7 linked regions of the Homo sapiens genome follow. Changing the gene in region 3 together with the main gene of any one other region gives a genetic interaction. Each region holds a gene or a part of one and is shown on either strand. Other genes may lie near its edges.

The links.
Region 1: changes in RB1 (region 3) and VGLL3 together harm fitness more than expected from each alone (negative genetic interaction), as found in Homo sapiens cells (one large-scale study listed by BioGRID).
Region 2: changes in RB1 (region 3) and GART together harm fitness more than expected from each alone (negative genetic interaction), as found in Homo sapiens cells (one large-scale study listed by BioGRID).
Region 4: changes in RB1 (region 3) and CTBP2 together harm fitness more than expected from each alone (negative genetic interaction), as found in Homo sapiens cells (one large-scale study listed by BioGRID).
Region 5: changes in RB1 (region 3) and ENO3 together harm fitness more than expected from each alone (negative genetic interaction), as found in Homo sapiens cells (one large-scale study listed by BioGRID).
Region 6: changes in RB1 (region 3) and RPS6KB1 together harm fitness more than expected from each alone (negative genetic interaction), as found in Homo sapiens cells (one large-scale study listed by BioGRID).
Region 7: changes in RB1 (region 3) and TADA1 together harm fitness more than expected from each alone (negative genetic interaction), as found in Homo sapiens cells (one large-scale study listed by BioGRID).

Annotation. Positions count from the first base shown.
Region 1 is NC_000003.12:86,967,150-86,970,649, reverse strand, and holds part of VGLL3 (transcription cofactor vestigial-like protein 3), read left to right. Parts: intron 1-1,526; coding exon 1,527-2,060; intron 2,061-3,500. UniProt on the Homo sapiens protein: May act as a specific coactivator for the mammalian TEFs.
Region 2 is NC_000021.9:33,518,118-33,521,617, reverse strand, and holds part of GART (trifunctional purine biosynthetic protein adenosine-3), read left to right. Parts: intron 1-602; coding exon 603-712; intron 713-1,055; coding exon 1,056-1,254; intron 1,255-3,500. UniProt on the Homo sapiens protein: Trifunctional enzyme that catalyzes three distinct reactions as part of the 'de novo' inosine monophosphate biosynthetic pathway.
Region 3 is NC_000013.11:48,380,251-48,383,750, forward strand, and holds part of RB1 (retinoblastoma-associated protein), read left to right. Parts: intron 1-996; coding exon 997-1,193; coding exon of another isoform or gene 1,194-1,205; exon of another isoform or gene 1,206-3,500. UniProt on the Homo sapiens protein: Tumor suppressor that is a key regulator of the G1/S transition of the cell cycle. The hypophosphorylated form binds transcription regulators of the E2F family, preventing transcription of E2F-responsive genes.
Region 4 is NC_000010.11:124,986,691-124,989,563, reverse strand, and holds part of CTBP2 (C-terminal-binding protein 2), read left to right. Parts: coding exon 1-46; 3' UTR 47-2,873. UniProt on the Homo sapiens protein: Corepressor targeting diverse transcription regulators. Functions in brown adipose tissue (BAT) differentiation. Isoform 2 probably acts as a scaffold for specialized synapses.
Region 5 is NC_000017.11:4,949,831-4,953,918, forward strand, and holds the start of ENO3 (beta-enolase), read left to right. Parts: upstream 1-1,288; 5' UTR 1,289-1,352; exon of another isoform or gene 1,353-1,394; intron 1,395-1,997; coding exon of another isoform or gene 1,998-1,999; coding exon 2,000-2,084; intron 2,085-2,964; coding exon 2,965-3,060; intron 3,061-3,220; coding exon 3,221-3,279; intron 3,280-3,441; coding exon 3,442-3,511; intron 3,512-3,881; coding exon 3,882-4,015; intron 4,016-4,088. UniProt on the Homo sapiens protein: Glycolytic enzyme that catalyzes the conversion of 2-phosphoglycerate to phosphoenolpyruvate. Appears to have a function in striated muscle development and regeneration.
Region 6 is NC_000017.11:59,899,621-59,903,120, forward strand, and holds part of RPS6KB1 (ribosomal protein S6 kinase beta-1), read left to right. Parts: intron 1-3,500. UniProt on the Homo sapiens protein: Serine/threonine-protein kinase that acts downstream of mTOR signaling in response to growth factors and nutrients to promote cell proliferation, cell growth and cell cycle progression.
Region 7 is NC_000001.11:166,873,465-166,877,662, reverse strand, and holds the start of TADA1 (transcriptional adapter 1), read left to right. Parts: upstream 1-1,398; 5' UTR 1,399-1,429; coding exon 1,430-1,503; intron 1,504-4,198. UniProt on the Homo sapiens protein: Probably involved in transcriptional regulation.

The sequences.
Region 1 (3,500 bases), on a different chromosome or scaffold from region 3:
TTTACATTCAGTACCATGGCCAGCAAGTCTACACCCATCTTGGTCCTCATTTCAATAGTCTCAATTTTTCTGTTGCCACCTTCTGCCTATGGAACTCTTTTTGTCTTTCAAATGCTGCTGCTGTCATATGTGTGTGTGTGTGTGTGTGTGTGTGTGTGTGTGTGTGCGTGTGTGTAATATATGGCCTTTTCTTATGTGCTGATCCATTTGCCTAAAGCTTACTTCCCAGGGCTAGCCCCCACTCAGTCTGTCAGCTTCCACTTATCACTCTCTAAGCTGGGTCGGGGCTCTCTGTGCTTCCTGTTGGGAGAATACCTACCGTGTCACCTTGCACATGTCTGTTTTTACTTATCTATCCTTCTGCAGATTGTGACTAAAAATGATGTCCATTTGGTCATCCCTGACGCCTATGTTTGATACATAGTAGGTCGTGTATAAATGTGTTATTACGATTGAGTAGGAAATTGAACTGATGAAGAGTTAGGGGATCGTTTTCTTTCTTATTCGTCTCTAAGTGCTATTCTTTGATATTTCCCTCTCCCCAAAATACTTCCTCAAACCCATGACTTCTACTTGAATTTCCTCCACTCATCATTTCCATAGGATCTTCACCAAATTCGAGATGTTGAGGTTCACAGTTACAATTGCGCCCTCTTGTGGCACTTTATGAAGAGGCCCAGCCATTGGCCATTTAGGCCACCTGGCTTCAAAGCCTAGTCCCATTCTTGCCATCTTAAGCCTTAGGCTTCTTCTCTACTGGGATTTTCTCATCATGGGAATAATAACAATAACTACCCCATAGGCCTGGAATGAAACTCCTATGAGATTATCCATGAAAAGCCCCTGGAAAAATGTTGGGCATTTGATACTGTCATTAAATATTGACCATTTTTATTCTCGGTCTAGAGACTCCCAGATCTCCACAGAAAATAAATAAATAAATAAATAAATAAATAAATAAATAAATAAATAAAATGAGGTTGGAATACACTCTTCTTAATGGAAAATGAGTGTTAGTGAGTATAAGTAATTGTAATCTTACTTCCATTGTTACCTTCGGCATTAAAATGTTTCATTTAAATGAAAATTGTATTTGCATTTAGAAGTTGGTAAAAATGATCATGTCCAACTTATACAAACCTCATTTATGGCATAAGATTTCTTTACCAGTGAAGTGGGTAGATATGACCTCCTCTTAGGCCTAATGGCTGCAAGGTACTCAGAAGGAAATGAAATTTTTCAATCCCCAAATTGCAAACCTTAGCACAGACTGTGACGGCATAAGCCAAGCAAAGCAAATGGAGGGAGGCTCATTTAACACTTTGGATCTTGCACATGGACCCATTGGCTTGCGAGCCCAGAGGCCAACCTGGTATCAATTCACCCCTGTTTGGGGAGAATAAGAGTGCATGCTAATTTGACTGCTTGTAAAATATTATTGGACAATTAGAGTGGACAATTAGAGGCAAGTCTATCCCAAAACTGAGTCTTATGTTAATAATGTTTTTTATTTTCTGTCTTCTCAGACAGCTCAGCTCTCTCAAGCCAGCGGAATAGTTTCCCAACTTCCTTTTGGACCAGCTCTTACCAGCCCCCACCTGCACCTTGTTTGGGGGGAGTTCATCCTGACTTCCAGGTCACTGGACCCCCTGGCACCTTTTCTGCAGCTGATCCCAGTCCTTGGCCGGGACACAACCTGCATCAGACTGGCCCAGCCCCTCCCCCTGCTGTGTCTGAGTCCTGGCCTTATCCTTTGACATCTCAGGTGAGCCCATCCTACAGCCATATGCATGACGTGTACATGCGGCACCACCACCCTCATGCCCACATGCACCACCGCCACCGCCACCATCATCACCATCACCACCCTCCTGCTGGCTCTGCCCTGGATCCATCCTATGGGCCTCTGCTGATGCCTTCAGTGCATGCGGCCAGGATTCCTGCTCCCCAGTGTGACATCACAAAGACAGAACCAACTACAGTCACCTCTGCTACCTCAGCATGGGCTGGAGCCTTTCATGGAACAGTAGACATAGTGCCCAGCGTGGGATTCGATACAGGTAAGCTGCTGGATTTCTTTCTTCCTATAACAAGATAAAGTTAATTTAAGAAAGGGTGGAAATTTGTTTTGAAATTATTTTTTCTTATCTGTAAAGTTAAACTTTACCAACATGTTTATGGAACCTAGCCATTTTGCAATAATTTCTGCATTCCTGCAGAAACTGGTATGACTAGCTCATGAAATCCAGCCTGAGAAAGGTCTCAGAGCTTTTCTCTCATATCTTAGGTTAGTAGTCTGTTCCTTTGAAATGGAATCTCTGGTACCTTCTGTTTAAAAAGAAATGAGCCCATTATTTAAATCTCCCATGTCTCTGAGCATTATACCATGTGTCAGGCCTAACAGAATTCAGAAATGGTGCACTTCAGTAATTTTTCTTTCCTTTCTTTTTTTGTTAGGCCTTATGTATGACTTATAAAAACTGGTTTCTGAAATATAGTCTATAGTGTAGCCTTTTGAACAAGAATTAGGGAACATATTTTAAAAGAATGATTTTTTTCTTCATTTTCTTCCTCCTCTCCCCTCCTCTGCCCTCCGTTCCCTGACTTTATCCTCCTTTGCCTTTCCTTCTTTTCTCTTATTCCTCCTCCTTTGTTCCTCTCCTCTCTCCCTGTCTCTGATTTAAATAATACAAGACTTAAAAGACTACTATAAAATTTATATTCAACAGATTTAGAAACTAATAGTAAGGAAATGATTTCTTCACAGAGCATTCATCTCCTGTCTGGAATTCAATAGTTCTGAAGGTTCTGTGTCAAATGTCTGAGCTTGATTTTTGGACCAGACTGGTCATATTAATAGTATTCATAGTTCTGAGCTCATGAAATCATAGGCATCAGAGCCCAAAACGACAAATTGATCATTGTATCCCTGGAGTCCAAAGTAGTGGGTCCCAGGTTCTTTTGCTAGAACATTTTGTGGCACATTGGAACTCTCTTTCCAAAAGCTTAAAGAAATTCTTTCCTTCCTTAGCTTTTCTGTAGTGTGGAGAACCCTTAATCATGTGCTGGTTCACAACAAATAATTCCCCAGAGTCATAAATGCTCAGCTTTATTTTACCTCTCCCGTGACATGAGTGGAACGTTCTTATTTTGGTTAACTTTTCTCCACTGAGCTTTCCATTGTTGATCATTGCCCCATCTAACACATTTCAGCTTCCTATTGAGACTGGGTTCAAGCTGCTTTTCTAAACAAAGTATCAGGGGACTTGGTAATCCCTCTGCAGATGCGTGTGTGATGGCACAGCAGGCACAGGCTTCCCTTCTTTCTTTGCCACATACTAACAAAATAAAGACAACTTGGGAGTCATTTGATGCCTGAGGCCAGATCTTATTAGAGTTCCCAATTTGGCAGCTGCCTTCATGGACAGCAGGTCTCAGGAGGCTCTTCTCTGTTTTATGTGGTACTTATGTGGCAACAGCAACAATGCTCTTAGCAGGCA
Region 2 (3,500 bases), on a different chromosome or scaffold from region 3:
CTCTGTCGCCCAGGCTGGAGTGCAGTGGTGCCATTTCGGCTAGCTGCAAGCTCTGCCTCCTGCATTCACGCCATTCTCCTGCCTCAGCCTCCCGAGTAGCTGGGACTACAGGTGCCCGCCACCACGCCCAGCTAATTTTTTTGTATTTTTAGTAGAGACGGGGTTTCACTGTGTTAACCAGGATGGTCTCGATCTCCTGACCTTGTGATCCACCCGCCTCGGCCTCCCAAAGTGCTGGGATTACAGGGGTGAGCCACCACGCCCAGCCTTAATTACTTTCTTAATCAATTCTTTGAGCACATGGTGCAATCTCTCATACTCAGGAAGGGCATCTCTTGTTTCAGCCATTCTTATGAACAAGTGGTATGTATATACATGTTTAACCTATTAACATGTTACATGTTAATCTATTAAATGATTACATTCTCCCAGTTGATTTGATTATGTCATCTCTGAGAACAGCTGTTCCAATCATCTATTTCTTCCAGAAGTACATCTCACAGGCCGCTAAATATACTGGTTTTTTTAAACTAGTAGACATTTAAATAATTACATGTTTAATCTATTAAAATGTAGCAAGTAATTAATTTCCTCTCCAACAGGCTGTAAAGTTGATCTTGGAGGTTTTGCTGGTCTTTTTGATTTAAAAGCAGCTGGTTTCAAAGATCCCCTTCTGGCCTCTGGAACAGATGGCGTTGGAACTAAACTAAAGGTAATCAGACACCTTTGTGAATAAAGGCCTTTTAGGAAAGATGAGGAAATTTATATCAAATATGTATTTTTCTTCTCTTGACATATATGAGCTAAAAAGGACCATGCCAAATAACCATGTAAAATGGCTAAAATATCTGCACATTTCTAATAACAAATTATTATTTAGATTATATTTGGATGGAAGGGTACTTTAGAGGATAAAAGGGGATGCTTTTAGACCAAGTAGCTTGTCAGAATTTCGTGTTCTTTTGTTTTTAGGTGTTAAGAGCAGCTAATCAAATGGATAAGATACAATTTTGAACTTATTCCCTAATGTGGATGTTTATATTGTTCTTACATAGATTGCCCAGCTATGCAATAAACATGATACCATTGGTCAAGATTTGGTAGCAATGTGTGTTAATGATATTCTGGCACAAGGAGCAGAGCCCCTCTTCTTCCTTGATTACTTTTCCTGTGGAAAACTTGACCTCAGTGTAACTGAAGCTGTTGTTGCTGGAATTGCTAAAGCTTGTGGAAAAGCTGGATGTGCTCTCCTTGGTATGATCAGCCATTTTAATCAATAACATGTCATTCTTCTTTTTGTGTTTTAGCCCTATGTAAAAATGTGATCAGTGCCAATGTAGCTAGCAAGAGAGACTGTATATCACAAGATGCATATATGTGATATGCACAAATGAAATATAGGTAAAACTACCTGAATTAAATTTAGAGCCTGCTACCTTCAAAGCCCTCCTCAGGGGTTTGTCCTCTAGACCCGTACTCCCAAACTGTCAGGCAGGCCTTATCTTTCTTCCCAATTTTTGGCCACCTTTTAACATCCCCATCAGTCTCAGTAGCCTCCTCAACAAACAGGTCTAGGAGTTATTTCCTCCTTATTGACCCCACGGTACAGGCAGATGGGTTCCTGGCATTCCGGATCTTAACTAAAGCCAAATTTTCCCATAGAGTGACATAAATAATAATATACGCCCAAGTTTTATAGAAGTATCTTTATACATGAAATGTTTGAGCAAAATGAATCTGTAGGTTGATCAAGGAACAAAATAACCTCTTTTTTTAATTTAAAAAAAAAAAAAAGGGAATCTCTCTCTGTCACCCAGGTTGGAGTGCAGTGGTTCAATCACAGCTCACTGCAGCCTTGACCTCCTGGGTTCAAGGGATCCTCCTGCTTCAGCCTCCCAAGTAGTTGGGAACTACAGGCATGTGTCACCAACCCAGCTAATTTTTGTACTTTTTGTAGAGATAGGGTTTTGCCATGTTGCCCAGGCTGGTCTTGAATTGCTGGGCTCAAGCTATCTTCCCATCACAGCCTCCCAAAGACACTGCCTCTTTTTTTTTTTTTTTTTTTAAACAGAGTCTTGCTCTGTCACGCAGTCTGGAGTGCAGTGGCGCAATCTTGGCTCACTGCAAGCTCTGCCTCCTGGGTTCACACCATTCTCCTGCCTCAGCCTCCCGAGTAGCTGGGACTACAGGTGCCCGCCACCACACCCGGCTAATTTTTTCTATTTTTCAGTAGAGATGGGGTTTCACCGTGTTAGCCAGGATGGTCTCAATCTCCTGATCTCGTGATCTGCCTGCCTCGGCCTCCCAAAGTGCTGGGATTACAGGCATGAGCCACCGTGCCCGGCCAGAAACTGCCTCTTTTATATGACCATTTAAACCAGAAATTGTGCCATCTTGCATCTGCACATGTGTGCATCTAATCTCAGCTGGTCTACCCAGGACCCCTTGAGCACCAACCCTAGTCCTCCACATGACCCTTTTCCACGCTGACAAGATGAAAGAAACAACCAAATTGCAGGCACAATTGCGTAATGATGGAAAAGAAACAGAAAGAAGGTGGTTCAGCTACAGCAGATGATAAAAACTTCAGTTCTCCTTAAGAAGTTAAGGGTAAACAATATCTCTGGTATTGAAGGGGTGAGTATGTTTACAAATGAAGACCAGAGATCCACTTTAACAACCTAAAATGCTGGTAGCATTTCTCTGGGGCAGTGAACACTTTCACCATTACAGGCCATGCTGAGACAACGCAGCTGATAGAAATGCTACCAGCATCTTAAACCAGCTTGGTGCAGACAATCTGACTAGTTTAAGGAGACCGACTGAAGCTCTGCCCAAATAGTCTGTGGATGGAAAAGCACTGCTTGCTAATGGAGGGGATGGTGATGAAGTTCTAGATCTTGTAAGGAGTTTTGATGAGGCTATTAAGAATGAGGCAAACTGAATTGAGTCAACTTCTGAAGAAGAAAAAATATGAAGTAACTAGGAGCTGCTATTTTACATTATGACTGCTTTCTGAAATTGTTTATGGATCTGATAAAATTTAGATCTCTAATATTTTAAGCCCCATTCCTGTTGGACACTGCAGCTCTTTTCAGTTTTTGCTTATACACAATTTCTTCTTTTTTTTTTTTCTTTTTGAGATGGAGTCTTGCTCTGTGACCCAGGCTGGAGTGCAGTGGCACAATCTCGGCTCGCTGCAACCCCCACCTCCCAGGTTCAAGCAATTCTCCTGCCTCATCCTCCCAAGTAGCTGGGATTACAGGCATAAGCCACCACACCTGGTTAATTTTTGTGTTTTTAGTAGAGACAGAGTTTCGCCATGTTGGCCGGGATAGTCTCGAACTCCTGACCTGATCCACCTGCCTCGGCCTCCCAAAGTGCTGGGATTACAGGCGTGAGCCACGATGCCCAGCCCACAATTTATTCTTTGTAGCTAATTAAGCTAAAGAAGCCTGGGAATAAAGTTTGAAACAAACAAAAATTGCCTTTCAACCACC
Region 3 (3,500 bases):
ATTTTCATAAATAAACACTTTTGTTCAATTTAAAGTTAAAATGTGGTGTGTTTCTTTGGTCGGGGGAGAGGGATAGTGTGAGGTTAAGGAGAAGGAATGCTTATTTTAGATCACTATATACTGAAGAATGTAATTGGTCATTATAAGCCATTTAAGAGGCTTATTTGAGTTATTTGAGGCCATCTTGGGGATAATATTTCACTAGGCTTCTCTTCTGAGTATACTGGTATACTGAATCCAAAAAAGGTACTTTTTGAAATCCCTCCGAAGACCTTTGAGATTGTAGAGTGCCAAAGGAGTATTCAAGAGTGGCCTCTACTGATATGGAAGCACTGCTGTAACCTCCATGGTTATGAAACTAAAGATTGAAGCTAGAATCCACTGGATAAACAGAACAAAGGCCAATTACAATGTTTTTAAAAACATAAATGTATATCACTTTGCAAATTATGTTGCAAATGTTAAAAGAAAGTTTTGCTTGCAGAAACAAAAGGAACATTTGTATAAGGATGCAAAACACAGAAAAAGAGGAACTTTTAGTTTCCTTATTAGTAAACAGATAAGGAAAACTGTGAATCCTCATTTATAACCAAGAAATGCATATTTTAATGAGATACCATTTTGTAACTAATGAAATTAGCAGAATCTTGAAGAATCTGTCTATCCTCTTACCAAGGATTAATGAGAATTAAAATAGATATGCCAATGGCTGATAAGATACTAAACCTGTTCCTGATATAAGTTTAGGGTATTTAAATCTTTGAAAATTTGAGATCAGCTATAAGTCCTTTCTCTAGGAAAAACACAGATTTGCTTACACTCAAAATTGGAAGGCTATTTCCTATGAGTCCGTAGACTCCAAAATAAAAAATTCTGCTCTAAATAAAAATGGTTTAACCTTTCTACTGTTTTCTTTGTCTGATAATAACTTCCAAAAAAATACCTAGCTCAAGGGTTAATATTTCATAAATAGTTACTTTTTTTTTTCATTTTTAGGAAGTACATCTCAGAATCTTGATTCTGGAACAGATTTGTCTTTCCCATGGATTCTGAATGTGCTTAATTTAAAAGCCTTTGATTTTTACAAAGTGATCGAAAGTTTTATCAAAGCAGAAGGCAACTTGACAAGAGAAATGATAAAACATTTAGAACGATGTGAACATCGAATCATGGAATCCCTTGCATGGCTCTCAGTAAGTAGCTAAATAATTGAAGAAATTCATTCATGTGCATATGGCTAACAAATTATTGTTAGTGAGAGGTGTTTCTTAACATCTACCTCAAGAACATATAGGGAATTTAATGAATAATGTTATTTCAGTCTATAGCCCAAGGATCAAGTGGAATATTAGAATGGAGCTTTAATCGAGCACCCTAAACCATCTAATACAGCACAGTGATTTATTTAAGAATAGCTTTTCTTAAAACATGCCACTTTAAAACAAAACGGATTTTTTTTTTATACTTTAAGTTCTAGGGTACATGTGCACAACGTGCAGGTTTGTTACATATGTATACATGTGCCATATTGGTGTGCTGCACCCATTAACTTGTCATTTACATTAGATATATCTCCTAATGCTATCCCTCCCTCCTCTCCCTACCCCATGACAGGCCCCAGTGTGTGATGTTCCCCACCCTGTGTCCACGTGTTCTCATTGTTCATTTCCCACCTATGAGTGAGAACATGCAGTGTTTGGTTTTCTGTCTTGGCAATAGTTTGCTCAGAATGATGGTTTCCAGCTTCATCCATGTCCCTACAAAGGACATGAACTCATCCTTTTTTATGGCTGCATAGTATATATGTGCCACATATTCCATGGTATATATGTGCCACATTTTCTTACTCCAGTCTATTATTGTTGGACATTTGGGTTGCTTCCAAGTCTTTGCTATTGTGAATAGTGCCACAATAAACATACGTGTGCATGTGTCTTTATAGCAGCATGATTTATAATCCTTTGGGTATATACCCAGTAATGAGATGGCTGGGTCAAATGCTATTTTTGGTTTTAGATCCTTGAGGAATCGCCACACTGTTGAACTAGTTTACAGTCCCACCAACAGTGTAAAAGTGTTCCTATTTCTTCACATCCTCTCCAGCATCTGTTGTTTCCTGACTTTTTAATGATCGCCATTCTAACTGGTGTGAGATGGTATTTCATTGTGGTTTTGATTTGCATTTCTCTGATGGCCAGTGATGATGAGCATTTTTTCATGTGTCTTTTGGCTGCATAAATGTCTTCTTTTGAGAAGTGTCTGTTCATATCTTTCACCCACTTTTTGATGGGGTTGATTTTTTCTTGTAAATTTGTTTGAGTTCTTTGTAGATTCTGGATATTAGCCCTTTGTCAGATGGGTAGATTGTAAAAGTTTTCTCCCATTCTGTAGGTTGCCTGTTCACTCTGATCGTAGTTTCTTTTGCTGTGCAGAAGCTCTTTAGTTTAATTAGATCCCATTTGTCAATTTTGGCTTTTGTTGCTATTGCTTTTGGTGTTTTAGTCATGAAGTCCTTGCCCATGCCGATGTCCTGAATGGTATTGCCTAGGTTTTCTTCTAGGGTTTTTATGGTTTTAGGTCTAACATTTAAGTCTTTAATCCATCTTGAATTAATTTTTGTACAAGGTGTAAGGAAGGGATCCAGTTTCAGCTTTCTACATATGGCTGGCCAGTTTTCCCAGCACCATTTATTAAATAGGGAATCCTTTCTCCATTTCTTGTTTTTGTCAGGTTTGTCAAAGATCAGATGGTTGTAGATGTGTGGTATTATTTCTGAGGGCCCTGTTCTAAACCAAAACAGAATTCTTTAAAGTATTTAGATAATTTATTTAAAGTACAGTTGTTATATATTTGAAAATGCAAATGTCTGCTCTTAAATTGTGAGATTATGCTATTTAGATTATTAAAAAGTGCATTTTTTTCTTGTTAAATATAGTAGGATTCATTTTTTCCCATTATTAAAGTATAAAAATGTATACTATTGTTCAATTATAGGTATTGGTTCAATCAATATAGGGGCACAAATTATATTGTCTAGGATTCTCTTTATAGCATTATAACTATTGATAAGGCTTTTGTTTTAATAAAAGTGGCAACTTGAGGTTATGCTCTTCAAATCAACATAGTTGGATAATACTTTGTGAATCATCAGTTTTGTAAATTAATGGTTTCTTTTGAAACTGTGTTGCATGCTAAGTATATATCTTTTAATTTGTATCAGTATATAGAAGTGGTAATTAAAAAATTAAGACTTTAGGTATGCCATAATCCTAATTTGCACATGTAACCTTAGTTTTAATTTCCTTACGTTTTGAATTTTTAATGACTAAGCGATAATTTATTTCTTAGTGTTTTCTTGTATTGCCATATAGACAGAGTGAATAGAGGAGAGAAACATGGGAAATTGATAGAAGAATGTTACACTCCTATTATTGAATTTCATAACTACTTATGGAATGAATTTACACTTGATAAGGAGTACTTAGAAGAAAACTTTCTGA
Region 4 (2,873 bases), on a different chromosome or scaffold from region 3:
GCCCACAAAACACGGGGACAATCGAGAGCACCCCAACGAGCAATAGCAGAGAATGCCAGAAGGTAATCACTCAGATACACTTGGGACCAAGAGACAGTGAAAAATAGATGAACTAAGAGAAAAAGAATCGGATGGTCTTTGTAACTGATTCTGGACATATGCATCATTGATGTTGCAGTGTTGAAACTACAAGAGCTAGAAAACTGAAGATGTCGTCTGCTTACGGAAGCGCTGAAAGACTAGGATGTGATTTATTAACGACCAACTTCTGTTATTGTGTGTTAAGTTTTTCATCTGTGCATCAAATCACAAAAAGAATAAATAGAGCTTTTTCCTTTATCAGTCCCTTGGGCACAGCAGGTCCTGAACACCCTGCTCTACAATGTTGCATCAAGAGTTCAAACAACAAAATAAAAAATATTAAGAGGAAATCCCCATCCTGTGACTTGAGTCCCTTAAGTCTACAGGGGCTGGTGACCTCTTTTTGCTAATAGGAAAATCACATTACTACAAAATGGGGAGAAAACTGTTTGCCTGTGGTAGACACCTGCACGCATAGGATTGAAGACAGTACAGGCTGCTGTACAGAGAAGCGCCTCTCACATCTGAACTGCATACTGAGCGGGCAAGTCGGTTGTAAGTTCAGTAAAACCCTCTGATGATGCAAAAAAAAAAAAAAAAGTATTAAGTTTCACAAGCTGTTTGTACTCAAATATATTTTCTCAGTTTCAGATCCTCTGCTATTTTATTGAGTGGAAAGTCTTGAGCTAAAAGGGTTCAAGAAGAATAATGTTGCATTTCCTTATGTCTCAGGAAACACTTTTTATGGTAACTTGTCAGATTGTCTATGAACAAACCCACTTTTTTAGACATTGATAAAGTCTTCTTTTCTTCACGTGATATTTTATACAAGAACACTTCAGATGTATTAGATGTGACTGATTTTAACAAATCCTATTAGATTTGTATCAACTAGTTACATGTTCTATTCATAGTCTTTTGTGAATCATTGCCTTTTTGTTTAAAAAGATGGCCTATTTTGAGCCTTTGTATAGGTACATTCCTGTTTTTGTGACAAAAGAAAAACTTTAAAATTGTCCCAAACAGAAAAATAATGGCTATCAGAAGTATGTTTTGTTTTAGTGTGAGTTACCGTTACTGTATTTGTTTATTGTAAAGGTGGACATTTAGCGTTCAGTGCAGTTTTCAATAAAAAGTAATTAAAATTTGTTAAGTTCTGAAATTCAAGTACATCTCACTAATGTAAATGTTCTCTACTTGAGATGTTTAAGGCAATTGCATTGTCAATTAGCCAATTTCCAGCTCTTGTTACTACAGGGTTCCATAACCAGACTCAAGACCGCTGACAATTAATTACCTGTGATAACAAAAAGTTTAATTGAAAAATCAAAACCTCACACAAGTCCATCATTATCACGTCATGCCATCCTTAAGATGCAATGGTGGGTTAGTGCTAAATCAATTCAAAAAAAAACAAAGTTGCTCAACTTTTAGAGTTCTGACTTTAATCTACCCCAAAGCAAAATGACCTGGACCTGGTTCAAGGGAGGGAAGTGAACCTTGAAACTGTTTTGCCAATAACCTAACAAACAAAATGATATTTACAAAGAAGTGTTGCAAATAGTCCCATGAGTTAAGAGCTTGATTTAATGGATCTTCTTTTTAAATAGAATTAAACCTTTATACTAAAAGTATTTGCAAGTGTCAATTAAGTCCAACAATTCCAGGTATGAAACTCCCTCTGAGCTCTTCCTTATACTTCCCTTCCCAATTAAAACAAAACAAGAAAATCATGGTGTCTTAAAGCCTTTGGCTTGCCTGGCCTTGTCTGCTCACTCATTTTAAGGTGGTGGCCCCATCCCAACTCTACCATAAAAGTGTCTATTAACACAAGCTCACATGGAGAGAGACGGCGCTCATAGTTACTGACCTATTACCCCAGGGAACAAAAAGGTAGTTTAACGTCTTCGTAACCACTCATCAAAGAGGCAATGAAATATGCGTGAAAAGGAGGCCAAGCGCACACAGAATATCTTACCTTCACGAATATGTGAAGAAGTCTGGGACACGATGAACCTAAGAGTCAAAAACATAAAAAGGCAGGTCTGAATCCATGGTCCACCTGGGTTTTAATTATTAGATCTTGGTCGCCCAAACAAAAATTTATATATATATATATAAATTTGACCCCAAGGAAGAACAAGTCAAAACAAAATGCCACGCTCTGTTTGCTCTAGAAAAAGAACCATCAAGTCCACAGAGTGCAGGTATGACTTACTCTCCAGAGTCAGTCATTAATGTCTGTCACCTAGCCACGTATAATCATCTTTGAAAAAGGACTATATTCTATCTTGGGACAATAATTATGGCTGTTTTAATAGTTCAAGAGCATAATATAGCATTGATTTACCAAAATTTTTGGCCTTTAACAGCCAGTCTATGAAAACCATTTAGAGCCCCATTCCTGTCTGTAGCCTAGGAAATGGAACCATCTTTAATTCTTTCCCACAGGGAAGAATGCTGCACCTATCACACTATGTGGTCAGGGTCACTGATTGATAATAAATAAATAAATAATAGAGCGCTCAGGGGAAACAACACTCACCAGACCACAACACACAGTAGAAGCTAAGTGCTGAGCGTGTACTCTGGACAACGCTGGCTGCAATGCAGACTGCAATGGCTACATGCTTTTCCCTCTAACAATTCTCTTTGGCTTTTTCAATTGGGAGGGCAGATTTTGCTTAACAGGCAACTAGAACAGGATCTCTGCCCACTAAAAAATTATCCCTATACATAGAGAAATTACTACAGATGCTAAGTAGTCAGAATGCTAACATTTTCTACAAACT
Region 5 (4,088 bases), on a different chromosome or scaffold from region 3:
GTGTTCCTCGACAGCCGCGCGGCTGAGTCACTGGCGGGCTCGGGCGGGGCCGCACCCGGGCACGTGGCGGCGCTCCCCGCCCGCCATCTCCTGACCCCTGGCCCACCGCACCCCTACCCCAGGGTGGAAAAATCCCGGGAGGAGCGGCCTGAGATGAGGGGGCGGGGCGAGAGGGGAGACTGGACGGGTGGCGGGGCAGGTGGCCTGGGGTGGGGGCTGGGAGGCCGCGCGGGCCGGCGGGGCGGGGAGCAGGGGTGGGGAGAGGGCGGCGGGGGTGAGTCACCGGGCGCGCGCTGCCCCGGCGCCGACGGGAAGGGCCTCCGAGTCGGGCCGAGGCGCCGTGTGTCCCCCGCCGGTCGGCTGGTATGGCTGCAGAGGAGCTCGGGGCAGACCCCGCACTGGCCCCAGAGCCGGCAAAGTGGAGATCTCTACCGAGGGCAGAGACCTACCTCCCCGCAGTGCTACAAGTGGGGCGCCGGAAGAGCCCCAGGCGTGCAGAAGCTCACAAAAGGCCACCCGTCCTCGGTCCATTCATTTTTGTTCACTGTTGATTCAGCCCCATTCATTGATGGGCTGGGGCCGTGCGCTGAGCGCCCACAGTCGATGGGGAAAGGGGCTCTGACCGACAGTCCCCACGCCGGGCGACAAGTGCTGTCCCAGCGTTATCAGTCGGGCGCCTTGCCAGCCGAAAGGGCCTGTCTAAATTCGTTTCCTGTCCCCTAACTCATCCCGGCGCTGGCTGGCCTGGAGAGGGTAGGATGGGGCGGCGCCGAGAATGGCCGTTATGAGGACCCTAAGAGGTGAGACCCTCTCGCCTTCTGGGGTGGGGGGTCCCGTCCTTTCCCCCACTGAGGACAGAGGCCCGCCCAGCGATCTGAGCATGTGTGGACGTCAATCTTGCAGCCCCTCTTCCAGGCCCCCTCCCCAGCCTTGCAGGGCTCAGGTTACCCCTGGCCTTTCCTAAAGGTCACTCATTCCTCTTGACGTTTGCAAAAGGGGAATGTAATCCTGGGGTGGGGGGAGACCCCTCATCTGTAGCCCCTCCCTTGCTCCTCCCAAAGGGTGGAATTAGAACAGGGACTGTTATTGGGAGACAGAAAGTGGGGGATAGTAGTTGACCTTTGGTAAGGGGGCAGGTGCCCAGGGCCAGAGGCTTCTGCTTCAGGCTGTAGTGGGCACTTGGCTGCCAGCCCAGTGTGAAGGGGGGAGGATGGAGAGAAAGAGAGGCGGGGCTGGCTGGGGACCGAGTGGCTCAGGGATAAATGCGCAGCCTGAGAGGGGGTGAGCTGACACTGTCCCAGCTGCCACCTAGACTCGGAGCTCCATCCAAACCTCCAGCGAAGACATCCCAGGTCGGGTGAATCTTCCAGCCCTGGGGGTGGAGGTAGTAAAGGGTGAGCATGGTATTGGCTTGGAGGAAGTGGGGGACATTTCTGCTTTTTTTCCTCCTGGGACTGGAGATGCTTGAAAAAGCTGGGGGAAGGGGCGGCTGGAGCAAGCAGATGGGACAAACTCTGGGAACACCGAAGGATCTAGGGAAAGGAGGCTGTGAGGAGGGCAGCAGGGATGGATAGAAAAGGGCAGCTAGAGCTGGAACCTGATAGGGAATTGGGGGCCCAAGGAGATTTCGGAGCAGGAAAATGAGAACCAGAAAGGATTTGAAGGCCACCAGCCATGGAGAACAGACTGCTTGACCAGAGGGGTGGAAGGAGAAGGCCTAAGTGGAGGCTTGGGGGAGGTGGGGGCTTGGTGAGCGGTGGCATCCCAGGAGCTATAGATAAGAGGCCCCTGGATTCTTAGGATGGGAGGGTGGAATAAGAGCTGTTCTGAGTGGGGGAGGGGGCTGCGCCTGCCTCTTTGGTCTGTGACCTTTTTGTAGGGTATTTTTAGCTCCAGCACCTGCCTTCTTGGAGTGGGGAAGAATCTTAAAGGGCAAGGGATTTCTGGTTCCTTAAGAGATCAACTGTCTACACTCACTCACACCTCCTGTCCTGCAGCCATGGCCATGCAGAAAATCTTTGCCCGGGAAATCTTGGACTCCAGGGGCAACCCCACGGTGGAGGTGGACCTGCACACGGCCAAGGGTAACACAAGGCCCATTGGATAGGCTCGCCTCCGAAGACCCCAACCCTTTGGCCTTTGCCCCCCAGTTCTGTGCCATATCCTCTCCTTTCTCTCGGGTTCCCTTTCCCAGACTTCTTCCCAAGCCCCCTTCTTCCAACGTGGAACCAGAGCTGGAAGCTAGGAGAAGCAGGAGTCTCTCTCTGCACTGCCTCCTGTCCCTGAGCTCAGAGAGGACACCTCAGCCCTTTGAGAGGTAGAGAGACTCCCTGTGAGGTCCTTTTTTTTGTTTTGTTTTGTTTTGAGATGGAGTCTCGCTCTGTGGCCCGGGCTGGAGTGCAGTGGTGCAATCTCAGCTCACTGCAACCTCTGCCTCCCGGGTTTAAGTGATTCTTGTGCCTCAGCCTCCCAAGTAGCTGGGATTACAGGCCTGTGCCATCACGCCCAGCTAATTTTTTTTTTTTTTTTTTGAGATGGAGTCTCACTCTGTCGCCCAGGCTGGAGTGCAGTGGCGCGATCTAGGCTCACTGCAAGCTCCGCCTCCCGGGTTCACGCCATTCTCCTGCCTCAGCCTCCCGAGTAGCTGGGACTACAGCTAATTTTTTGTATTTTTAGTAGAGATGGGGTTTCACGGTGTCAGCCAGGATTGTCTCGATCTCCTGATCTCGTGATCCGCCCGCCTTGGCCTCCCAAAGTGCTGGGATTACAGGCGTGAGCCACCGCGCCCGGCCTCAGCTAATTTTTGTATTTTTAGCAGAGACGGTTTCGCCATGTTAGCCAGGCTGGTCTTGAACTCCTGATCTCAAGTGATCCACCTGCCTAGGCCTCTCAAAGTGCTGGGATTACAGGCATGGGCCACCGCGCCCAGCCATCCCTGTGATCTTCCAATTCCTCCTGTCCCAGGCCGATTCCGAGCAGCTGTGCCCAGTGGGGCTTCCACGGGTATCTATGAGGCTCTGGAACTAAGAGACGGAGACAAAGGCCGCTACCTGGGGAAAGGTGAGGAGACACCAGCGCAGAAGGAGCCTGTGTGGGCGGCTTTAGGACATGGGTGCACAATGGGTAGAGGACTGGAACCCCCAAGGCTCTTGAGGAGCTGGGGTCCACAGAAAGGGGCCCAGTTGATTGAGCTCCAAAACTCATCCTCTGGCCTGTCTAGGAGTCCTGAAGGCTGTGGAGAACATCAACAATACTCTGGGCCCTGCTCTGCTGCAAAAGGCAAGTGGGGAAGCCCGCTCGCTGCAGCCTCCTCCCCATGCCCCTGCTCCCTCAGCCCAGACAGGCCTCTCCCGAAACATTTTCCCTTATCCTTCCCCTGCATGTGCCCTGACTTCTGAGAAATCTGACCTCTGCTCTCCCTTCTCAAACTCACCCTTCCAGAAACTAAGCGTTGTGGATCAAGAAAAAGTTGACAAATTTATGATTGAGCTAGATGGGACCGAGAATAAGTGTGAGTGAAGGGCTAGCGGTGGGGAAGGGATGAGGTGTGGGAGAGATGGCGAGAGGCCATGGGGTGAGGCCTGATGGGTTATTTCTGGGTCCCCCATTTTGGGTCACACCGCAGCTGGATGGATTTGTGTTCATTCCACAGGCATTTCCTATGCCTGCCTTCTGCCAGGCCTGGGCCGGGCTGTGGACACAGACATGCAGCTGACACATTCCCCCGGGGTGGGGGTTCCCAGGGCTACTCAGGCTGTTGGGGAGAGATCTGTTAACCAATTCTTCATGCTCAGTGGTTTGGAGCTCTGGCGTCTTCCTGGAGTAGCCACCCCAAACCCTGCAGAAGCTCTCATCCTTTCTTCCCGCTTGCCTCCTTCCAGCCAAGTTTGGGGCCAATGCCATCCTGGGCGTGTCCTTGGCCGTGTGTAAGGCGGGAGCAGCTGAGAAGGGGGTCCCCCTGTACCGCCACATCGCAGATCTCGCTGGGAACCCTGACCTCATACTCCCAGTGCCAGTGAGTGCAGCTACCCGCCCTTCCCAGATCTCGCCTGGACAGAGCCAACCCCGCCCAGCCAGGGTTGGCCCCC
Region 6 (3,500 bases), on a different chromosome or scaffold from region 3:
AGCAACAAAGACAAAAAAAACCTTTAACCATGACCACCCCCATATCCCACACATAAAAGAAACTGTATCCAGTTAAAATGGTGAGAATTGGTTTTTTCCCCCTTGATACTGCCCCATCTCTTTGCCTGGGTATAATCATGAAGTGTACATTCCTGGTATTACATGTTATCGTGATTTGGTCACACCATGAGTGAGTTATGACTAAAATTTTGTGTTTTGGGGGCATTTGAACATTTATTCTATAAGAATACTATCAGTTTTTGGCTGGGTATGATAGCTCGTGCCTGTAATCCCAGAACTTTGGGAAGCTAAGGTGGAAGGATCATTTGAGGCCAAGAGTTCGAGACCAACCTGGCCAACAAAACAAGACCCTATCTGTACAAAAAATTAAAAAAATAAATAGTGGGCATAGTAGCACACAGCACACGCCTGGCACTAGTGACTCCAGAGGCTGAGAAGAGATGATCACTGGAGCCCAGGAGTTTGAGGATGCAATGAGCTATTATCCTACTACAGCACTCCAGCCTGGGTGACAGAAACCTAATTGCTAAACACACACACACACACACACACACACACACACACACACACACACACACACACACACACACCCCTATGTGTTTTTGTTGTGTATGTTGGCTGTGTACTGGTAGTTTTGAAGAAAGATATATTCACTTTAATATCTTAACTACTCTAAAGTTTTGACATGATTGCTTAAAGACTTGTAATGTTTTAGAGTCTATTTTCTTTTTCTTTTTTTTTGAGATGGAGTCTCACTCTTGTCATCCAGCCTGGAGTGCAATGGCGCGATCTTGGCTCACTGCAACCTCCACCTCCTGGGTTCAAGCGATTCTCTTTCCTCAGCCTCCTGAGTAGCTAGGATTACAAGTGCCCGCCACCAGGCCTGGCTAATTTTTGTATTTTTAGTAGAGGCGGGGTTTCTCCATGTTGGCCAGGCTGGTCTCGAACTCCCAATCTCAGGTGATCCGCCTGCCTTGGCCCCAAAGTGCTGGGATTACAGGCGTGAGCCACGCGCCTGGCCTGGAGTCTATTTTAAATTAATTAGTATCCTTTCGTGTAAACTGAGAGTTCATAATCAGATTAGATTGATTTTAAAGCTATATATTATAATGTCAGTAACTGAAATTCTGCTGCCAAGTTTTTTGTTGTTTTTTGTTTATACAATTCAGTGACTTTGAGTATATTTACAGAGTTGTGCAGCCATCACCAAAATTAGGTTTTAGAAATTTTTACCACTCGGCCGGGCGCAGTGGCTCAGGCCTGTAATCTCAGTACTTTGGGAGGCCAAGGCAGATGGATCACTTGAAGTTGGGAGTTCAAGACTAGCCTGGCCAACATGGTAAAATCCTGTCTCTACTAATAATACAAAAATACCCAGGCGTGGTGGTGCATGCCTGTAATCCCAGCTACTTGGGAGACTGAGGCAGGAGAATCACTTGAACTTGGGAGGTGGAGTTTCCCATGAGCCGAGATTGCACCACTGCATTCCAGCCTGGGCAACAGAGTGAGACCTTGCATTTTTTTTTGAGACGGAGTCTCGCTCTGTTGCCCAGGCTGGAGTACAGTGGCGCGATCTCGGCTCACTGCAAGCTCCGCCTCCCAGGTTCACGCCATTCTCCTGCCTCAGCCTCCCGAGTAGCTGGGACTACAGGTGCCCGCCACCACGCCCGGCTAATGTTTTGTATTTTTAGTAGAGACGGGGTTTCACCGTGTTAGCCAGGATGGTCTCGATCTCCTGACCTTGCAATCCGCCCGCCTCAGCCTCCTAAAGTGCTGGGATTACAGGCGTGAGCCACCGCGCCTGGCCGAGACTCCATCTTAAAAAAAAAAAAAGGAAATTTTTATCACCCTATAAAGAAATTTTGGGGCTGGGCATGGTGGCTTACGCCTGTAATCCCAGTACTTTGGGAGGCCAAGGCAGATGGAGCGCATGAGCCTAGGAGTTTGAAATCAGCCTGGGCAGCATAACAGCACCCTGTCTCTGAAAAAAAAAAAAAAAAAAAAAGAAAAAAAAAGAAACAGAGTTTTGGCCAATTTAGTTACTTCTGATTCTCACCCTCAGCCCCAGGCAACTAACCTATTTCTCATCTCTATAGATTTGGCTTTTCTAGGCCCAGTGTGGCTCATACCTGTGATCCCAACACTTTGGGAGGCCGAGGCAGGAGGATCACTTGAGACTAGCCTGGGCAACATAGTGAGACCCGTGTCTCTACGAAAAATAGAAAAAAATTATCCGTCTTGGTGGTGTGCGGCTGTAGTCTCAGCTGCTTGGAAGGCTGAGGTTGGAGGATCGCTTGAGTCTCCAAGGTTGAGTTTGCCGTGATCCTGCCACTGCACTTCAACCTGCGCAACAGAATGAGAACCTGTCTCTAAAAAAAAAAAAAAAAAAAGCTTTTTCTGGACATTCCATATAAATGGAATCATATAGTGTATGACCTTTTATATTTGGTGGCTTTCACTTTTTTTTTTTTTTTTTTTTTTGAGATGGAGTCTCACTCTATCACCTAGGCTGGAGTGCAGTGGTGTGATCTCTGCTCACTGCAACCTCTGCCTCCTGGGTTCAAGTAATTTTCCTGCCTCACCCTCCTGAGTAGCTGGGACCACAGGTGTGCGCCACCACACCTGGCTAATTTTTGTATTTTTAGTAGAGATGGGGTTTTGCCATGTTAGCCAGGCTGGTCTCAAACTCCTGACCTCAAGTGATCCGCCTGCCTTGGCCTCTCAAAGTGCTGGGATTACAGGCGTGAGCCACAGCATAAAGTTTTTGAAGATCATTTATGTTGTAACATGTATCAGTACTTCATTTCTTTTTAGGGCCAAATAGTTATTCTGTTTTATGGCTACAGTGCATTTTGTTTATCCATTTACCGGTTGATGTTCATTTGAGTTATTCATTCAGATGTTCAACTGAATTGTGAATAAAGCATTTTTTGTTTCTTTTTTTTTTTTTTTTGGAGATAGGGTCTCACTCCGTTGCCCATGCTGTAGTGCAGTGGCGTGAAAAAGCTCGCTGCAGCTTCACCCTCCTGGGCTGAAGTAATTCTTCTGCCTCAGTCTCTCATGTAGCTGGGACCACAGGCACGTGCCACCATTCCCAGCTAATTTTTTGATTTGTTGCAGAGATGGGGGTCTCGTGATTTTGTCCCGGTTGGTTTTAAACTCCTGGCCTCAAGCAATTCTTCTGCCTCTGCCTCCCAAAGTGTTAGGATTATAGGCATGAGCCACCTCCTCGCCTGGCCTGAATAAACCTTTTAGAAGGCTGGGTGTGGGGGCTCATGCCTATAATCCTAGCACTGTGGGAGGCTGAGGCAGGTGGATCGCTGGAGTCCAGGAATTCCAGACCGGCCTGGGCAACGTGATGAAACCTGTTCTCTACAAAAAATGAGCCGATGCTGGGCATGGTGGCCTGTATTCCCAGCACTTTGGGAGGCCGAGCTGGGTGGATCATGAAGTCAAGAGTTTAAGACCAGTCTGGCCAA
Region 7 (4,198 bases), on a different chromosome or scaffold from region 3:
TGGAGTCTGGAATTTGTTCAGCAGAGCGTGGGGAGCCATGGAAAACTTAAGTGGATATTTTTTAAATGTGTCAAAACTTACCCAGAGTTTTGACACAGAGAGGAAGACTTTGCCTGACCTTTGTATCTCCTTTCACCTGTGTATCTCCAGTACTCAAAGAGTTCCAGACACATAATAGGAGCTCACTGTATGAATTCAAGTGAAGAGAAGGTGCCCGGCTGGCATTGCAGCCAGGACAGGGCTTGTGGGTTTAGGTTGGGCAGTGAGGAAGTTGAATGAATGAACTTAAGGGGACATCTTTGGAGAAATTACACAAGATCTAAAAGCTATCTAGGATTATTTAAAAAACTTTGGGAGGCAATTTGACAATATACACCAAGGCATTTATAAATATTCCCATCATTTGATCCAGTAATTCTATGTGTGGGACTCTATGCTAAAGTAATAATCCTAAAGGAGGAAAAGTTTTATGCATAAAGAAGTTTTGCTTCATTATGCTATATGCTTCAAAAGCAATATTACAGTATTGCTTTTTAATAGAGAAGAAATGGACACAGTCTAACAATTGGGAAACAAGTTGTGTACCTTCTATCTGTGGGGGTATTTAATATGTTGTCATTAAAATTATTCTAAAGACAATGTAATACTACAGATAAATCCTTAAGTTTAAAAACGTGCAAAATTGAACATAGAATATTTTAAGTCATGGGAGTGTGCGAAGTGAAGGAGAAATCTCTCTCAGTTAAGTGTTTGTCCGGGAGTGGTAAAACACTTTTTCCTTCTTTTTATCTTTATCTTTCTGTGTATTTTCCAAATTTTACATAGTTACCTCATTTACTCAAATACTTATTAAGCATCCACTATGTGCCAGGCGCTGCTCTAGAGAATTGCGGGTAACAGTGAATAAAACACAACTCCTGTCCTCGAGCCATAACATTTACAAGATAAATCAACTAAATGTCATATGAGACGGTTAGTGCTCGGGGAAAAATAAGGCAAGGAAAGAGTAAAACTGATACTGCATTTACTTTTTTAAATGGAGGGGTAAGGTACTCCTCCAGGCAGAAGAACAGCAGGCTGAATTCGGAATTGCCCCAGCGGTAACAGAATGAAAGAGCTTGGGACACGCCAGCCTGTCAGCAACGTTGCAGCCGAGGCGGGGCGCGCGGGTTTAGGATGGGCGCGCGACAAGGTGAAGCGGATCACGTGACTCGAGGGGCGGGAGGAAGAGAGCAGAGTTTGGCCGGGCACCTTCCCTGCGAAAAGGCGGGCGGAGCCGAAAACCAAACAAACGACTTCTGAGAGATTGGGGGCGGGACTGACGGCGGCCGGCTTAGCTTCCAGAGCCAAGGCCTTCCGCCGAGTTGGTTTTTGGGTTGTTGATCGCGGTGGCCGGGCGGTCTGCGGTCGGGCTGAGACACGCGGAGCAATGGCGACCTTTGTGAGCGAGCTGGAGGCGGCCAAGAAGAACTTAAGCGAGGCCCTGGGGGACAACGTGAAACAGTAAGAGCTGCCCTAGCACAGCGTCCAGGCCAACACGCGGGTGCTCTCCTGGCCTCGGGCTGCCAGCCCGCCCCGGAGACGCCCGCGTCGCCCGGGGGCCTGTGCAGCCTGGAGTCCGCGGCGGCGGGGCTTCGGGGTTTCTCCGGCCGGGGCGGGGCGGGCCACCTGAACTCACCGCCCTGGAGAGACCGGGCCTCCTGGGCGCCCGGGAGACATCGGCGGGCGCCGTTGCTCGGGACTGTCTGCCCTGGGTGGGGCGGGAGAAGCGCACTTCGCACCCAAGGGCCTGCTGAGCAGGTGCGGGCCCCAGCGCGGGCGTGCGGGATGCGGGAGGCTGACTTGGGCGGAGTGAGCCGGAGCCCTACGCGTCCAGCCAGAGGGCATAGCGCAGGGCGGCCCGCCCCTGGAGGGCTTCCTGGAGGTGGAGGCCTGTTGAGCTGGTGTGATCTGCTACGGATTATTGGTAAGCTCTTTTGACAGCAATTTCGTAAGGCAGACGGACCCTCTGGTGAAATCACAGTCATTGAACACTACAATTATAGTGATGATAGCAGTAGCGGACATTTTAAACATTTTAAGCTCTCTAAATATATTATCTAATCCTTACAACAGATGTGAGATAGGTACAGTTGTTATTCCCATTTGACAGATGAGAAGACTGAGACCTAGTGCGGACAAGTAACTCTTCAAAAGTCACTGTCAGAGTTGGGACCCACGCTTTTGATTCCCGACTGATGCATTAGAGGGGCTGTAAAGGATCCCAGAGACGCTCAGCCAGACCTTCATCCAGGTTATGGCAGGGGACCTAGTGCACAGTCAGGTTAGGTGCAGAATGGCCAAGGGTAAAATCAGTATCCAGTCAAAGCCAAAGCCAAAGAGCAAAAAAGGAACCTCTGGGATACAAGGAAGAGTTTGGAAATTTTCAAAACGTTGTTATTACAACTTTATTTTTCAAAAATATAGGAAGCAAATATAAACGTTTAAAATTACAGTGCCTGTGTTGTTGCTGCTAGATGGCTTCTCTGGTATTCTACACATTTGCATTACTCAGTGGATGCATACTTTTAAATGATGTTGGTGGAGGAGCAATTTGGGAATACTTAATTTTTCTCCAATACTTTCTTTTCATCCTTCTCTGTTCTTTATTATTACTGGATTGAAATTACTTAGGTTGGATGTCATACATGAATTTTGGAGTTTTTCCTTCATGTGAAATTTTGGGGTGGCAGAGTTGACAGTCTACTTTTCATCCTAACAAGATAATAATGGAAACTATAAAAAGATTAAAATTAAAATCTAAACTGTTATTTTAGCATAATTATTTAATTTTTGGTGAACATTTATTTACGCCCAGAGATATGTTTCACTTTGTGTTTGGGGGTTGGGGTCTTGCTCTGTGGCAGAGGCCGAAGTACAGTGGCCTGATCACACAGTTCACAGCAACCTTGATCTCCTGAGCTCAAGAGATCCTCCCCTGCTGTGAGCCTATAACTGGGACTGTAGGCACGCCCCGCTAATCCTGGCTAAAGTTTTTTTTTTCAGAGACAAAGTCTTGCTGTGTTGCCCAGGCTGATCTCAAATCCTGGCCTCAAGCAGTCCTCCCGCATTGGCCTCCCAAAGTTCTGGGATTACAGGCATGAGCCACCACACCCGACTATAGTGTACCACCGAAAATTGTCTTTCGATATTGATGTTCACTGTGCTTATTGAATTAAATATTCTTACTTATTTTAATAGGTAAAATTGACAGCTTTCACCCTAATTACTGTAGCTTTTTACTTTTGTAATACCGACTGATAAAATTTACCTTTTTTTTTTTTGAGATGGAGTCTTGCTCTGTCGTCCAGGCTGGGGTGCAGTGGCATGATCTCCGCTCACTGCAGCCTCCACCTCCTGGGTTCAAGCACTTCTCTGCCTCAGCCTCCTGAGTAGCTGGGATTACAGGCACCTGCCACCACGCCCGGCTAATTTTTGTATTTTTAGTAGAGATGGGGTTTCACCATCTTGGCCAGGCTGGTCTTGAACTCCTGACCTCGTGAGCCACCCGCCTTGGCCTCCCAAAGTGCTGGGATTACCGACGTGAGCCACCGCGCCCAGCCAAAATTTACATTTTTAAGCACATAAGGGGCATTTCACTCTGTTCCATCTAGAATGCTTACAAATATTTGAAAGCAAACGTTTACATACCAAAATAAATCTGAAGGACCTGGCTTGTGTATGATTGCCTTTAACCCTGATTAGATGCAATGGTGACCTCTGTCATCCCATACTCATCAGTTACAGGTTCAGGGCTGCCAAAAGTGTTTTTGAAGTTAGCATTCCTTATTTAGTTTTTAAAGGCCAAAGCCGACTGTCTGATGTTGGTCAAATACTGATGCTGAAGCTAAATTTGGTGCATCTGGAGTGTGAATCCCCACTAAAATGCAATCAAAAGAGATTTTTATGCCAGAAACAGTTAATGGTAACGTATAGTTCTAAATTTGTTTTTCCATTCTCTCATTGTTCTTTTCCCTTCTCCTTAAAAAGTACCTCTGGGTTAAATAGTCAGTAATACTCTTGTACTGTACAGTCATTTCTTATATTTCCTCCATGAGCAGTTTGCTTTGGTTTGCACAACCTATTTAAGTGTGGTCCTCGGTGGTAGGCAAAACATACAGGGTTATGCACGGAGGCTGGATATGAGTTATTTGCTATT